2 separate regions of the Homo sapiens genome follow, and region 1 is linked to region 2. Evidence: fine-mapped expression QTL. Tissue or cell type: whole blood. Region 2 holds a variant in brackets; the other region holds the start of a gene. All regions are shown on one strand. Distances are between the middles of the regions.

Region 1 (8,016 bases), 35 kb before region 2:
TCACTTGAGAGTGGAAGGTGGAGGCTGCAGTGAAGCAAGATCTCACCACTGCACTTGGGCCTGGGTGGCAGAGGGAGACCCTGTCTCAAAAAACAAGCAAGCAAACAAACCAACCAAAAACATCTCTGGGGCCTGGGCCCAGAACATAGCAGGTGACAGCACTTCCTCTACTCAGGTCGCTGAGGCAGATTTGATATCCAGAGTTTTACTGCGAATCACCTACTTTTTGCCAAATATCTTTCTGTGAATGAGAGACTAAAACAAGTTAACTTTACTTTTAAAATTATATTTTAGAAATTTCAGACAGCATGAATGCAAAAAAAAACAAAAGTTTTCTTTATATAGCAGCCAATAGGCCAGGCATAGTGGCTCACACCTGTAATCTCAGCACTTTGGGAAGCTGAGGTGGGAGGACCACTAGATCCCAGGAGATGGAGACCAGCCTGGGCAACACAGGGAGACCCCATCTCTACAAAAAATTTAAAAATTAACCGAGCATGGTGGTGCACGCCTGTGGGCCCAGCTACTCGGGTTGCTGAGGTGGAAGGATCGCTTGAGCTTAGGAGGTCAAGACTGCAGTGAGCTGTGATTGCACCACTGTACTCCAGCCTGGGCAACAGAGCAAGACTCTGCCTCATTAAAAATAAAATTTAAAAAAAGGCCAGGCACAGTGGCTCAATCCCAGCATTTTGGGAGGCCAAAGTGGGTGGGTCACTTGAGTCCAGGAGTTCGAGACCAGCCCAGCCAACATGGCAAAACCCCATCTCCACTAAAAATACAAAAATTAGCTGGGTGTGGTGGCGTACGCCTGTAATCCCAGCTACTCGGAAGGGTGAGACAGGAGAATTGCTTAAACTTGGGAGGTGGAGTTTGGAGTGAGCCGAGATCGTGCCATTGCACTCCACCCTAGACGACAAAAAGAGACCCTATCTCAAAAAAAAAAAAAGCAGCAGATAGAACTTACTTGTCCTACATTATCAAAGGCAGGAATCTTGGTTTCAGTTCCTTTGTGCTGTATTTTTACCTTAACAGGCAAAATGTTCCCGTGCAAAACACTCCCATTTGAGTAGAGCCACGAGTCCCACCAAGCCAGAAACACAAGATGGAGAAATGGAGAAAAGACAGGTGGGTGTGCAGCGGGGAGTTCCTGCTCTCTGCGAGCCAGCTGGGATCTGGGCACAGCGCTCACTCCAAGATTTCAGAGCACTGGCCCAGAGCAGCCTGGGGTCACAGACCCTGGAGGAGCAGCTCTGAAGCACCTTCTGAGGGCCAGATCCCGGCCTTGGCAGTGAACAGACTAAAGTGCTCCTGGGCTTCCCCACTCTGCGGGGAATAAGCACCCAGGACGTGTCAGATGATGGTAAGTGCCCCGGAAAAAGGAAGCAGGCAGAGAGGCTGGCGCTGGGTGCAGAGGGTTTTCAGTGTTGAATGGGGACGCTGGGCAAGGGCCTGAGGCAGGGAGGAAGCGGCCAGTGTGAATGTGGGGGAGATATGGGGCTTTTTTAGGCAGAGGGAGGAGCAGGCACAGAGAATGTTTTTACAGCTGAGAACTACTCCCAGGGTATGTGGCCATAATGAGCCAAATTCTTCTCCTTTTTTTCAATCAGATCACTGTCACCCAGCACTAAGCCCTCTCACAGTACTGGGTCCCATGTGTCCTTGTGAAAGGGGAAAATGGGCTCTGAAGCAGCGAGCACAGGTACCGGCAGGCAGAACTCCTCGAAGGCCGGCTTCACGAAGGTGGTGTACTGCGTCAGAATCTGCTCCAGGTCCCTCCCTCGGCGCACGTCCCGGAGAACTGCAGCGGCAAGGGGCAGGCGTGCTTCAGACCTCAGGACCTGCCGCCAGCCTCGGCCAGGCAGGCACGGAGGCCCGCGGCCGCCTTACCTCTTCGAGACAGCCTGACGTCGGAGTCGGTGTCCACGAAGAGGCGCAGGTGGAACATGTCCCGGATCTCCTGGCTGTAGAACACCAAGATGCCCTCAAACAGAACCACGTCCGCAGGGTAGACCACCGTGGTCTCTGGTAACCTGAGGGGCGCACGGGGAAAGGGGCTCTGCTGCAGACACAGGGTCTCCAGGCCACACACACAGTCAGCTTCCATTGCAGGGACACTGACTGTGGGAAGGGGTGGGGGACCCACAGAAACCAACCGGGGGAGGCCTGCCGCCAGGCAGGTCTGTGTGAGCCCGAGGGGACGTCCTAGCTGGCCCCTCTCCTCGGCCCTCCCTAGAACCACCTGCTTACCTTGAGTGTGTCACAAAATCATAGGTCGGCACCTCCACCGTTTTGCCCTCCACGATGTTCTTCAGAGTCCTGTGCATCAAATCATTATCAAAGGCATCTGCAGGGTTGGAGACAAAGGCAAGACAGGCAGATGCCCTCGTGCAGCGGACAGCAGGGAACCCTCTCTGCTCTGGGGTCAGCACAGCTGGGTGCTGGGGACACCGAGAACCCTAGCACAGGTAGACTAGGACTACGGCAGTGTATGTTTGGTAGCAACAGTGCCCTCTGCAGCCCTGCAGACCACAGGATGACCCTGTCCTTGCTGTTCTCGGGCTGTGCCACTGCCCAAGCTCTGTGCCCCTGAGATGCCGGAACACAGGGGTTTTCTGATCAGCTCTTCCTGGGAGGTGGGTAGGCTGGGCCTCTGCTTCTCTCTCTTTCTGGGACTAACTGGTTAGACTGCGGCTTTGCAGGCCTTCTTCCCACAAGTCCTTGGGAAAAGGCTGACCATGCCAGCCAGCCAGGGTGGAATCTTCTAGCAGTGGCAGGTGTCTCCCTGCCGCATCTGCCCGTTTACCTGGCCCGGAGCTTCAAGCCACCAGCACTAGTTTACCTACCGCCTCCCACACTGGCCTCTCTGAGGACTTTGCCCCAAAGCACGGGAGGGCACAGTGGGCAGAGGTGTGTGTGGAGGGCCCTAAAGGCCCCAACGTGGGAAGGGAAGATGGGAGGATTTCTCCAGGATCACAGTTGTGGCAGGGCAGGGCAGGGCTCCCCACAGTGCAACAGGCTTCCTGACTGGCTCCAACCACGCTCCTGGGGGGACACTCAGGGCCCAGAGAACTCAGCAAAGTTCCCCTGACTTCACTGTGCAGCCAACTCCACTGCAGGCTGCGTGGCGAGTTGGGGGAACAGCCCAAGCGGGTCTGCATCCATCCAACCTTGGGCCCAAGCGCAGCTGGTTAGCGGCCGCCCAGAATGGGGTCTGCCCTCCCCACATCGTTGGGCTCGCGATTTACCTGGATGGTCAAAATTGTACTGTCCTTTCAAGGCCTTGGCCTTCTGCTCTGCCGTCAGGACCTTGTAGAACCTGTCCTGGCTCAGGATGACCACCTTCCGCTGCCGCTGTTCCACCTCGTTCTGTCCCAGCAACTCCATGATCTTCTCACACACGGTCGACTGGAGACACAGAAGCGGGATTCCCGCCTGGAACCGCTCGTCCTGTGACAGGCACGGGGCCGGCTTCTGGAGACACTGACCCACCCGCCCCCTGGGGGGTATGCTCGGAAGGCGGGAGGACACCAACAGGTGTGGATGGTCTCAGCGGAAGGGCCGCGGGGGCCCAACGGGGTTAGCACGGACTTGGGGCTCCGAGGAGCCCGGCCGGCGGAGAGGCTGTGGGGGAGCCCCGAGGCCCAGCGCCCCAACCCCTCGCCCGCCCCAGCCCGCCCCGGCCCATCGCGGCCTGCAGCCCCTTCGCTCCCGCGCCCTGCCCCTGCCTGGCAGGGGGCCCCTCGGCCGGGGCTGGGGTCTCCTCTCTGGACCGGGCCGCCCGTAGGCACCGGCGAGAGGCGAGACCCCGGCCCGCTCGGCCCCTTACCTTCCCGCTGGCAGTGCCGCCGCTCACCCCTATCAGGAAGGGCCGCTGGTGCGGACGGTCGGCCTCCGGCGCGGGGCTCTCGCAGTCTTCGCCTCCCGCCGAAGCCATCTCGGCCTCCGCTCCCGCGCATCGGGTCCCCGCGCCCGCCCCTTCCCCAGGCCCGGCGCGCCCGCCCAGCGCCGAGGTCGGAGGCAACCGGAGCGATCACTTCCGGGAGGCGCGCGGGGCACGCCGGGAGTTGTAGTCCACCGGGGGGGGGGGGGCCGCGCATGCGTGAGGGTGCAGGGCCCGAGGCCGGCACACCAGGAGCGCCCGCGTCCCATTGCGCCGAAAGCTGGCTGGCAGGGACTGCTGCGCCCGGGCCTCGAGCCGGCTACAAGGTCTCAGACTCAAGTGGCCCGGAAGGTGCCCGTTCCGCACCCCGAGGCTGGGGCTGCGCCTTCGTCCGAGTGCTTGCCTCTGCCTCGCGCTGCCTCTGCGCCAGTCCCGGGCCCTCCCCCGGCCGCCCCCGGGCCTGGCCCCCTCCAGCCCAGGCTCCTCTTGGCCATCGAGGCCTCCGGACTGTCCGGACGCCTCCCACCCCACCCGCTGCTGGAGCCGTCGGGGCGCCCCGGAACGTGGCGGGGGCTGTCGCCTGATGACTTTAGGCTCGCGCCTACAGCGCGCCAAGGAGGCAGAGGCCCATGTGCCGGGTTCCATCCCTGCCGCCCCCCCGCTCCGTGCCTGGCACAGAGAACGTGACAGGCAAATTCTGATCCATTGAAATTATGGATTTCCAGCCGGGCGCGGTGGCTCACGCCTGTAATCCCAACACTTTTGGAGGCTGAGGCGGGTAGATCACGAGGTCAGGAGATCGAGACCATCCTGGCGAACACGGTGAAACCCCGCCTCTACTAAAAATGCAACAAATCAGCTGGGCGTGGTGGCGGGCGCCTGTAATCCCAGCTACTTGGGAGGCTGAGGCAGGAGAATCGCTTGAACCCGGGAGGTGGAGGTTGCAGTGAGCCGAGATGGTGCCACTGCACTCCAGCCTGGGCCACAGAGCAAGACTCCGTCTCAAAAATAAAAAAGAGAGAGAGATAGCTAAGGCTCGGGGCAGAGCATGCTTTTCATATACAAAACAGACAACCCCGGGCGGACGCGGTGGCTCACACCTGTAATCCCAGCACTTTGGGAGGCCGAGGCGGGTGGATCACGAGGTCAGGAGATCGAGACCATCCTGGCTAACATGGTGAAACCCCGTCTCTACTAAAAATACAAAAAATTAGCCGGGCATGGTGGCGGGCGCCTGTGGTCCCAGCTACTCGGGAGGCTGAGGCAGGAGAATGGTGTGAACCCGGGAGGTGGAGCTTGCAGTGAGCCAAGATCACGCTACTGCACTCCGGCCTGGGGGAAAGAGTGAGACTCTGTCTCAAAAAAAAAAAAAAAAAAAAAAAAGACCCCAAGTCTACAGCCCCAGCTACCTCCTTATCTAATTCTCGCCTTTGGAGGCAAGATTCTCCCTGCCCTAAGTCACCCAGGGCCAGGTATCAGGTGACTAGAGACCACTCTGCAGCCCAGAGCCTGCTAGAATTACTCAAACTAGCCAATTTTAAACTCTTTCCCTGCCCTGCCAGGCCTTTTCCATGGAAACCCCAAGAAAGCCTCAGGCCTGGGCTCTCCCCTCGCCCCTGCTTCTGCCTCCTGACCAAACCTGGGGTTCTCTACTGAGAACCGTGCATGGCATGGGTGCCCCTTCTCTCAGGAAATGCGATCAATCTTGCGATGGCTTTGGCCTCTCCTCATGGTCATTCAGCCGTACCTCTGTAAATTAAGCCCCAGGCACAGAACAGTGCCTAGCAAACAGCCACGCTGCTGGCTTAGATCTGTCCAGGTGTGTGTCCCAAAGGTGGCCATCCCCCAAGCCAACTTTGAATTTGTATCAAGGGAGAGTTAGACACGGTTTCTTGCCATTTCTTCCCCTGTGGTCCAGCCACGTAGCGAAAGGCAGGGAAACTAGCAGAGTCTGACCAGGGGCTGTCCCTGATACCCCTGGCCTGGGTCTCGTGTGCCCTCTCTGGTGACTGGCCACAAGGCATGGGCTGCCAGGGCCAGTCAGGCTATTGCGTGGTTCCGCTCCCAAGGCAAAGGGACGCTTTGGGAAGGAGCCACTCCCTGGGAGCAGGCCCAGCACCCAGGAAGCCCACAGTCCAGTAAACAAGGCCCGGGCCCACACGGCTCAGGCCTCTGGGCCACAGTGGCTCCCCTATGGGACCATCCCAACCACCACCAAGCAGAGGGCCAGCCCCAAACCTCTAGCTGGTCCCCAACTCCCCATATTGTGAAGAAGAGTGACTTTTATGGGTTTTTTTTGTTCGTTTTGAGACGGAATCTTGCTCTGTTGCCCAGGCTGGAGTGCAGTGGCATAATCTTGGCTTACCGCAACCTCCGCCTCCCGAGTTCAAGCAATTATCCTGCCTCAGCCTCCCCGAGTAGCTGGGACTACAGGCACCTGCCACCAGGCCCGACTAATTTTTGTATTTTTAGTATAGAGACAGGGTTTTGCCATGTTGCCCAGGCTGGTCTCGAACTCCTATTCACCTGCCTCAGCCTCCCAAAGTGCTGGGATTACAGGTGTGAGCCTCTGTGCCCAGCCGAAGAGTGTCCTTAAAGAAGCATGAGTCAGCCGGGTGCAGTGGTTCACGCCTGTAATCCCAGCACTCTGGGAGGCCGAGGCAGGCGGATCACTTGAGGTCAGGAGTTCGAGACCAGCCTGGCCAACATGGTGAAACTCCATCTCTACTAAAAATACAAAAATTGGCCGGGCACGGTGGCTCACGCCTGTAATCCCGGCACTCTGGGAGGCTGAGGCAGGCGACTCACGAGGTCAGGAGTTCAAGACTAGCCTGGCCAACATAGTGAAACCCCGTCTCTACTAAAAATACAAAAAATTAGCTGAGCACAGTGGCGGGCGCCTGTAATCCCAGCTACTCGGGAGGCTGAGGCAGGAGAATCGCTTGAACCTGGGAGGCGGAGATTGCAGTGAGCCGAGATCACGCCACTGCACTGCAGCCTGGGCAAAAATAAATAAATAAATAAGTAAATAAATAAGCCGAGCATGTTGGCATGCGCCTGTAATCACAGCTACTCAGGAGGCTGAGGCAGGAGAACTTGAACCCAGGAGGCAGAGGTTGCAATGAGCTGAGATCGTGCCACTGCACTTTTTTTTCTGTCTGCAAAAAAAGAAAAAAATAAAAACTAGCTGAGTGTGGTGGCATAGGCCTGTGGTCCCAGCTACTGGGGAGGCTGAGATGGGAGGATTGCTTGAGCTTGGGAGGCAGAGGTTGCATTGAAGAGAAATCGCGCCGCTGCGCTACAGCCTGGGTAACAGAGCGAGACCCTGTCTCCAAAAAAAAAAAAAAAAACAAAAAAACGTTGTTGCTGAATTGGGGGGTGGGGGTAGGTGGAGAGTTGGGTGGAGGCTTGGAGCCCTCGGAGTTTGGGTTTCCCAGAGCCAGGCAAGGCAGTACTCCTAAGAGTGACCACTGTCTACTCTGGATTCATTCTCTTACCTGCTCTCTGGTGCGGGATGTTGAAAATCGGGGAGGCTGTGCATGTGGGGGAGTGGGGAGTATATAGGAAATCTCTGCACCTTCTGCTCAATTTTTCTGTGAATCTAAAACTGCTCCCCCTGCCCCCTCAAACACATGCAGTACAGGAAACACCGCTCTCCATGGCTGCCCTCCTCCCTCCTCCTTCAAGCCACCCTAACCACTACAAAAATGTCAGCTCATGCCAAGCATGTCCTGAAGCTTTTATTGAACACTAGCTGGCTCTCAGCGCTTAAAGAGATAAGCAGGTGCCTGCTGTTTTAAGTATTGATTGCCCTTTTCCCTGTAATCATAAAAGTGACTCCTGCTGATTGCAGAAAATGTATACACACAAACACACAACCAAAACTAGAACCACCCCTTACTCCTCACCCAGGGAAAAGCATGGTTTTGAGTTCTGGGGTGTGCCCTTCTGGTCTGACATGGCTGTTCTAGATAACGGAACGAGAGGCTAAACAAGGTTTGGTGGTGTGGGTTTTTTTTTTGTTTGTTTGTTTTTCGAGACGGAATCTCACTTTGTCTCCCAGGCTGAAGTGCAGTGGCGCGATATTGGCTCACTGCAACCTCCACCTCCCAGGTTCAAGTGATTCGCCTGCCTCA
Region 2 (8,259 bases):
TTTTTTTTTTTTTTAATACAGACAAGGGTCTCACTCCATTGCCCCAGGCTGGAGTGCAGTGGCATGTTCACAGTTCACTGTAACCTGGAATTCCTGGGCTTAAGCAATCCTCTTGCTTTGGCCTCCCAAGTAGCTGCGACCACAGGTGTGCACTGCTACATCTGGCTGATTTTTAAATTTTTTTTTAAAGAGACAAGAGTCTATGTTGCCCAGGCTGGTCTTGAACTCCTGGCCTCAAACAATCCTCCTGTCTTGGTCTCCCAAAGCGCTAGGATTACAGGTGTGAGCCACTGCACCTGGCCTAGCCTTTTATCATGTTTACCAGCTATTTGGATATCTCTTTTTACGAGGTGCCTGTTCAAGTTTTGTGCCCATTTTTATGTTTGACTGTCTTTGTTTTAGAGCAGTTCTGTATGTATTTGGGATGAGTCCTACATTAGATACAGTATTGCAAACATCCTTTCTCACTTGGTAGCTTCCCTTTTCACTTTTTTTTTTTTTTTTGAGACAGAGTCTCGCTCTTGTTGCCCAGGTTGGAGTGCAATGGCGTGATCTCTGCTCACTGCAACCTCCGCCTCCCAGGTTCAAGTGATTCTCCGGCCTCAGCCTCCCTCCCTTTTCATTCTTAATGGTATCATCTGATGAAAAGTTCTCAGTTTTGTTTTTTTTTTGAGATGGAGTCTCGCTCTGTCACCCAGGCTGGAGTGCAATGGTGCAATCTCTGCTCACTGCAACGTCCACCTTCCAGGCTCAAGCGATTCTCCTGCCTCAGCCTCCTGAGTAGCTGGGATTACAGGTGCCTGCACCATGCCTGGCTAATTTTTGTATTTTTAGTAGAGACAGGATTTCACCATGTTGGCCAGGATGGTCTTGATCTCTTAACCTCGTGATCCGCCCGCCTTGACCTCCCAAAGTGTTGGAATTACAGGCGTGAGCCACTGTGTCCAGCTGAAAAGTTCTCAGTTTTAAGGTAGTCAAGCTTATCTTTTCCTTTGTAAATAGTATGTGTGTAGGAGTATTTCAGTGGCTTTTGTGGCTTAATAAAATTTCTGTACTCATAGGACATGAAGATGCTCTTATAATGTCTTTTAGATTTAGAAGCTTTATTTTTATTTATTTATTTTTTTTAACTTTTGAGTTGGAGTCTCGCTCTGTCACCCAGGCTGGAATGCAGTGGTGCCATCTCGACTCACTGCAACCTCTACCTCCCAGGTTCAAACGATTCTTCTGCCTCAGCCTCCCAAGTAGCTGGGATTATAGGCGCCTGCCATCATGCCCGGCTAATTTTTATATTTTTAGTAGAGATAGGGTTTCACCATATTGGCCAGGCTGGTCTTGAACTCCTGACCTCAAGTGATCCGCCCACCTCTGCCTCCCAAAGTGCTAGGATTACAGGCGTGAGCAACCGTTGCCTTCCTGTGCCTGGCCTCATTGCTTATTTTCACAGTTAGATCTGCCACCAGCCTAGAATAGGTTCCAGAGCTCTATTATTATTTTTTTTTTTTGAGATGAAGTCTCACTCTGTCACCCAGGCTGGAGTGCAATGGCGTGATCTCAGCTCACTGCAACTTCCACCTCCCGGGTTCAAGAGATTCTCCTGTCTCAGCCTCCAGAGTAAGCTGGGACTACAGGCACGTGCCACCATGCCCAGCTAATTTTTTTGTATTTTTAGTAGAGACGGGGTTCCACTATGTTGGCCAGGCTAGTCTTGAACTCCTGACCTCACGATCTGCCTGCCTTGGCCTCCCCAAAGTGCTGGGATTGCAGGCATGAACCACTGCGCCCAGCCCTGTTTGCCTATTTCTTTGCCACTATCACACTTCATTATGGGGCTATATATATATATATATACACACACACACGCACACACACACACACATATATACACATATATATGTATATACATACACATATATATGTATATATACATATATGTGTGTATATATATATACATGTGTATGTATATACATATATATGTATATTTGACACATTGTCTTTCTCTATTACTAAGGCTGGAGTGCAGTGGTGTGATCACAGCTCACTGCATTCTTAGCCTCCTTGGCTCAAGTGATCCTCCCATCTCAGCCTCCCGAGTAGCTAGGACCACAGGTGTGCACCACCACACCTGGCTATTTTTTTATTTTTCTGTAGAGATGGGGTCTCCCTATGTTGCCCAGCCTTGTTTTTTTTTTAAGATAGGGTGTCAACCAGGTTGGAGTACTGTGGTGTGACTGTACCTCACTGCAGCCCCAAACTCCTGGGCTCAAGGGATTCTCCTGTCTCAGCCTCCCAAGCAGTTGGGATTACAGGCATGAGCCACCACGCCCCAAAATCACTTGTCTTTTTTTTTGAGAAGGAGTCTCACTCTGTTGCCCAGGCTGGAGTTGCCTCAGCCTCCTGAGTAGCTGGGATTACAGGTGTGCTCCACCACACCTGGCTAATTTTTCTATTTTCAGTAGAGACAGGGTTTCACCATGTTGGCCAGGCTGGTCTCAAACTCCTGACCTCATGTGATCCTCCCACCTCAGCCTCCCAAAGTGCTGGGATTACAGGTGTGAGCCACAGTGCTCAGCCCCAAATTCACTTCTTAATTCTGATAATTTATCTGTAGATTCTGTTGGGTTTTCTATACACAATGTTATCTATATATAATGAGTTGTCTTCCTTTTCAATTCTTACCCACCTTGGGTATTTTTCTTGCCTTATTGCACTAGCCGGGACCCCTATTATAATGCCGAATAGGAGTGCTGACAGCAGGCAACCTTGTCATTTTCCCAGTCTCAAAATTAAGGCTTTCAACATTTCATCTTGTTAAAAAAACAGATTTTTTTTTTTCAGGTTAAGTACCCTTCTATTCCTAGTTTACAAAGAGTTTTAAAAAACTATGCATAGATATTGAATTTTATTTTCATGTGTACTGAGAAAATGATCAGATTTAATCCATTAATATGGTAACTTATGTTACCATATTAATTTTCAAATGTTAAAATAGCTTTTCATTCCTGGAATAACTTCATCTTGATGAGGATGTATTATTATACTTTCTGTATTTCACTTTGCTAAAATTTTGTTTAGGATTTTTGCATTGTGTTCATGAGTGAAATTGGACGGTAACTTTCGTTCTTGTTATAGTTTCGGTATCATAGTTACGTTGGTCTCATCAAAAGAGTTGAAAATGTTTCTCATTTTCATTTTTGGAAGTGTTGTATAAGATCTGACATTTTCTTTTCTTCTTTTCCTTTTTTTTTTTTTTTTTTTGAGATGGAGTCTCACTCTGTTTCCTGGGCTAGAGTGTGGTGGCGCCATCTTGGCTCACTGCAACCTCCACCTCCTGGGTTCAAGCAATTCTCCTGCCTCAGTTTCCCAAGTAGCTGGGATTACAGGCGCCTGCCACCACACCCAGCTAATTTTTTGTATTTTTAGTAGAGACAGGGTTTCACTGTGTTGGTCAGGCTGGTCTCGAACTCCTGACCTTGCAATTCACTTGCCTTGGCCTCCCCAAGTGCTGGGATTACAGGCATGAGCCACTCCGCCCGGCTAAGATTTGATGTTTTCTATTCCTCATATGTTTGGGAGATGTGTGTTAGCACTTCCCACTAGAATCATAGATTTATCCATTTCTCCTTGTAGTACTGTCAGCTTTTGCTTTACATATTTTGAGGCCATGTAATTAGGTGTATACAAATTTAGAAACTGTTAAATCTGTTGGGTGTAATTTGTATCTTTACAAAGTGTTTCCTTTGTAACTCTAGCAATGCCTTTTGCCTTGAAGTCTGTTTTTTCTGATATTAATATAGCTATGCTTTGGGGTTTTTTTTTTTGGTGGACCATATTTGCAAAGTGTATCTTTCCCCAAAATTTTACTTTCAACTTTTCTGTACTTGTAACTTAATTTTTATTTATTTATTTATTTAGAGACAGGGTCTCACTCTGTTGCCCGGGCTGGAGTGCAGTGGTGGCGATCACGGCTCACTGCAGCTGCACTTCCCAGGTTTGGGCAATCCTCCTACCTATCTCAGCCTCCCAGGTAGCTGGGACTACTGGCACTCACCACTACACCTGGCTAATTTTTGTAGTTTTTGTAGAGATGGGGTTTTGCCATGTTGCTTGCCCAGGCTGGTCTTGAACTCCTGGGCTCAAGTGATCCACCTGCCTCAGCCTCCCAGTGTTGGGTTACAGACATGAGCCACCGTGCCCAGACAAGACATTTTCATGGCTGTTTTACATAGCGAGTGTTCATTTATCCACCTGTTCACTCTTTTTGTTGCTCTTTCATTCTCTCCTGCAAGTATGATCTTCCATTTGGGATCATTTCACTTCTGCCTGAGAAAGTTGAGTCTTTGCTTAGTGTAGGTCTGCCAGTGGTGAGTTTTCTGTTTTTTTAATCTCACAATATCTTGATTTTGCCTGCATTCTTTTTTTTTTTTTTATTTTGAGATGGAGTCTCGCACTTTGGCCCAGGCTGGAGTGCAGTGGCGCGATCTTGGCTCACTGCAAGATCGGCCTCCCAGGTTCATGCCATTCTCCTGCTTCAGCCTCCCAAGTAGCTGGGACTACAGGCGCCCGCCACCTTGCCTGGCTAATTTTTTGTATTTTTAGTAGAGACGGCATTTCACTGTGTTAGCCAGGATGGTCTCGATCTCCTGACCTCATGATCCACCTGCCACGGCCTCCCAAAGTGCTGGGATTACAGGCGTGAGCCACCACACCCGGCCACCTGCATTCTTGAAAGGTATTTTCAGTGAGCGTAGAATTTTGGATCGTGGTCCTATTCTTTCGGCTTTGAAGAAGATACCATTCCCTTATCTTCCAGCCTCAATCATGTCTGTTGAGGAGTCTAATTGTGGCTCCTTTGAAGGTGATGGGCCCTTTTTCCCCGTATGATTGCTTAAAGATTCCTTTTTCTCAGGCCGGGCG[C/T]GGTGGCTCACGCCTGTAATCCCAGCACTTTGGGAGGCCGAGGCGGGCGGATCACGAGGTCAGGAGATCCAGACCATCCTGGCTAACACGGTGAAACCCCGTCTCTACTAAAAATACAAAAAATTAGCCGGGCGTGGTGGCGGGCGCCTGTAGTCCCAGCTACTCAGGAGGCTGAGGCAGGAGAATGGCGTGAATTCAGGAGGCGGAGTTTGCAGTGAGCCGAGATCGCGCCACTGCACTCCAGCCTGGGTGACAGAGCAAGACTCCATCTCAAAAAAAAAAAAAAAAAGACTTCTTTTTCTCTTTAGTTTTCAAAAGCTTCATCATGCTGTGCTTTGGTGTATTCTTCTTATTTATTATCCTGCCTGGGGGTTCATAAGGCTTCTGGAATCCAAGGCTTGATGCTTCCAGTCAAGGACTGATCAGGAGACATAGAGAGTAATTTGGACAGGAAAAGATTAATATAAAGAATAACCCGACGAGAAGAGAAACTGTGAGTGCTAAAGAATGCTCTAGGGCTGAAGGTGAGTACCCAAGAAGAAAAAACTTAGAAGGGCCCAATCCCCATGGCTGGGATTGAGAAGTCACTGGAGAAGGTGTGAGTGCAGCCTACTGGGAGGTAGCACTCACTGGGCCCCGGGGCCAGAGCTGGCTCACTGGGCTGGGCAAGTCCCTTTGAGGTGCAGGTGGGCTGAGGCTGGTGGGCGGGCATGCGTTGGGAGTTGGGGTGTTGGGAACCTGCTGGCCAGCAGGGTGGCACAAGGGTGAGGTGTGCATTACCCATGCCTGGACGGCCACAGCAAGGTGGCCACCATAACACCACTGGGGCCGAAGTGACAGGTGTGCGGTAGGGGCAGGTCTCCACACATGTCTCTAGCAGCCATTGAGCCAGAGCAAGGACAAAAGGCCAGGGCCTTCCGCCAGCAGTGTCTCTCCAGCGTCTCTATTGACAGAACTTAACATGCCCACTGCAAAGGAGACCTCTTCATTGCAGAGCAGGTAATGAAGGGTGGACTTGGACATGAGAAGCAGTGACATGATAATTGGCCAGTAGGTTTAGGAAAACCATTGAAGTATAATCTACATATCATAAAATTTACTCATTTAAGTATATGATTCAGTTATTTTAAATTTGCAGAATTGTGCAACCAGCACCGTGATCCAATATTTAAGTTTCCATCATCCCCAAAGATCGTTCATGTACTCCTTTTGAGACAGAGTCTCGCTCTGTCACCCAGGATGGAGTGCAGTGGCACGATCTTGGCTCACTGCAACCTCCGCCTCCCAGGTTTAAGCGATTCTTATGCGTTGGCCTCCCGAGTTGCTGGAATTACAGCCCCGTGTGTGCCACACCGGTCTAATTTTTGTATATATATATTTTTTTCCTGAGAGGGAGTCTCGCTCTGTCGCCCAAGCTGGACTGCAGTGGTGTGATCTCGGCATACTGCAACCTCCACCTCCTGGGATCAAGCAATTCTCCTTCCTCAGCCTCCTGAGTAGCTGGGACTACAGGTGCCCGCCACCACACCCAGCTGATTTTTGTATTTTAGTAGAGACAGGGTTTTCCTTTGTTTGCCAGGCTGATCTCATACTCCTGACCTCAAGTGATCTGCTCACCTCAGCCTCTCAATGTGCTGGGATTACAGGCGTGAGCCACTGTGTAATTTTTGTATTTTTAATAGAGACGGGGTTTCACCATATTGGCCAGGCTAGTCTCAAACTCCTGACTTCAGGTGATCCGCCTGCCTTGGGCTCCCAAAGCGCTGAGGTTACAGGCGTAAGCCACCGTGCCTGGCCCCTCATGCACTTTTTGTAGTCCGTCTGTTTCCACTTCCAGACAACCATGAATCTGCTCTCTGTATCTATAAATTTGCTTTTTCTAGACATTTCATATAAATGGAATCATGTGATAACACACCCTTTGCATCTGGCTTCTTTCATGTCCATGTTTCTTTTTCTTTTTTTTTTTTTTTGAGATGGAGTCTTGCTCTGTCGCCAGCTGGAGTGCAGTGGTGCAATCTTGGCTAACGACAACCTCCACCTCCCAGGTTCGAGTGATTCTCCTGCCTCAGCCTCCCAAGTAGCTGGGACTACAGGCACCCGCCACCATGCCCGGCTAATTTTTTGTATTTTTAGTAGAGATGGGGTTTCACCATGTTGGCCAGGATGGTCTTGATCTCTTGACCTTGTGATCCACTCGCCTCAGCCTCCCAAAGTGCTGGGATTACAGGCATGAGCCACCCCACCTGGCCTCCATGTTTCTTTTTTTTTTGAGTCAGAGTCTCACTCTGTGCAGTGGCACGATCTTGGCTCACTGCAACCTCCACCTTCTAGGTTCAAGCAAGCACATCCGGCTAATTTTTGTATTTTTAGTAGAGACAGGGTTTCACCATGTTGGCCAGGTTGGTCTCGAACTCCTGACCTCAAGTGATCTGAATGCCTCGGCCTCTCAAAGTGCTCGGATTATAGGCGTGAGCCACTGCGCCTGGCCATGTCCATGTTTTCAAGGCTCATCCATGTTGCAGCATGTGTCAGCTCATTCCTCTGGATTGCTAAAGTGTTCCACTGTATGGAAATACCTCATTTTGTTAATCCTTTCACCAGCTGTTGTACCCTTGGGTCCTCTCCCCTTTTTGGCCAGTGTGAATAATCCTGCTGTGAACACTGATGTACACGGGAGTCATTCCTTGCTTCTGCTCTGACCTTTTCCTTTCTGCTGGTCCACTTACCCTCAGGACTTCTATCCCTGGGTCTCCTCCTACCTGGTTTGCTCCATCCTGTGTCTCTTCATGCTGCATTCTACCCACATCGTCTTTTTTTTTTTTTGAGATGGAGTCTCACTCTGTCTCCCAGGCTGGAGTTCAGTGGCGTGATCTCAGCTCACTGCAACTTCCACCTCTTGGACTCTAAGCGGATTCTCCTACCTCAGCCTCCCAAGTAGCTGGAATTACAGGCCCCCGCCATCACATCCAGCTAATTTTTATATTTTTAGTAGATATGGGGTTTCACCATGTTGGCCAGGCTGGTCTCGAACTCCTGACCTCAAGTGATCCACCTGCCTCCACCTCCCAAAATGTTGGGATTGCAGGCGTGAGCCACCGTGCCCAGCCCACCCACAGCTTCTAACCTATCTCCAGGTCACTAATTTTGCTCTTAAACAGTCACTGAGTTCTTCATATGAGGTATTTTTTGGTTTAGAATTTCCATTTGTCCTGTTTATATTTTCTAATTATTTGCCAAATTTCTCAGGCTTGTGTCACTCCTAGAACATAGTTAAGCACTGCACATTCACAGCCACATTTAAGAACTCCAAATTTCAGCCTTCGGGGGACTGATTCTGTC

The links. PIP is the estimated chance that this variant, and not a neighbour inherited with it, causes the effect.
Region 1: it holds the start of UCK1, and the variant in region 2 is fine-mapped to the expression of UCK1 in whole blood (TOPMed, PIP 0.98).

The regions. Positions count from the first base shown.
Region 1 is chr9:131,527,241-131,535,256 of GRCh38, forward strand. It overlaps UCK1 (uridine-cytidine kinase 1), which reads right to left and starts at 4,023. Exons shown (of 7, transcript NM_031432.5): 1 at 3,827-4,023; 2 at 3,246-3,405; 3 at 2,248-2,344; 4 at 1,888-2,030; 5 at 1,704-1,798. The coding sequence starts at 3,934. RefSeq lists enhancers at 1,275-2,474, 3,180-4,093 and silencers at 3,509-3,558, 3,759-4,118, 4,259-4,428.
Region 2 is chr9:131,562,412-131,570,670 of GRCh38, forward strand. No RefSeq gene overlaps it. Among named protein-coding and RNA genes, the nearest start is that of PRRT1B, 21 kb to the left of the region's middle. RefSeq lists an enhancer at 5,677-6,176. The variant C/T (reference allele first, on the strand shown) is at 4,918.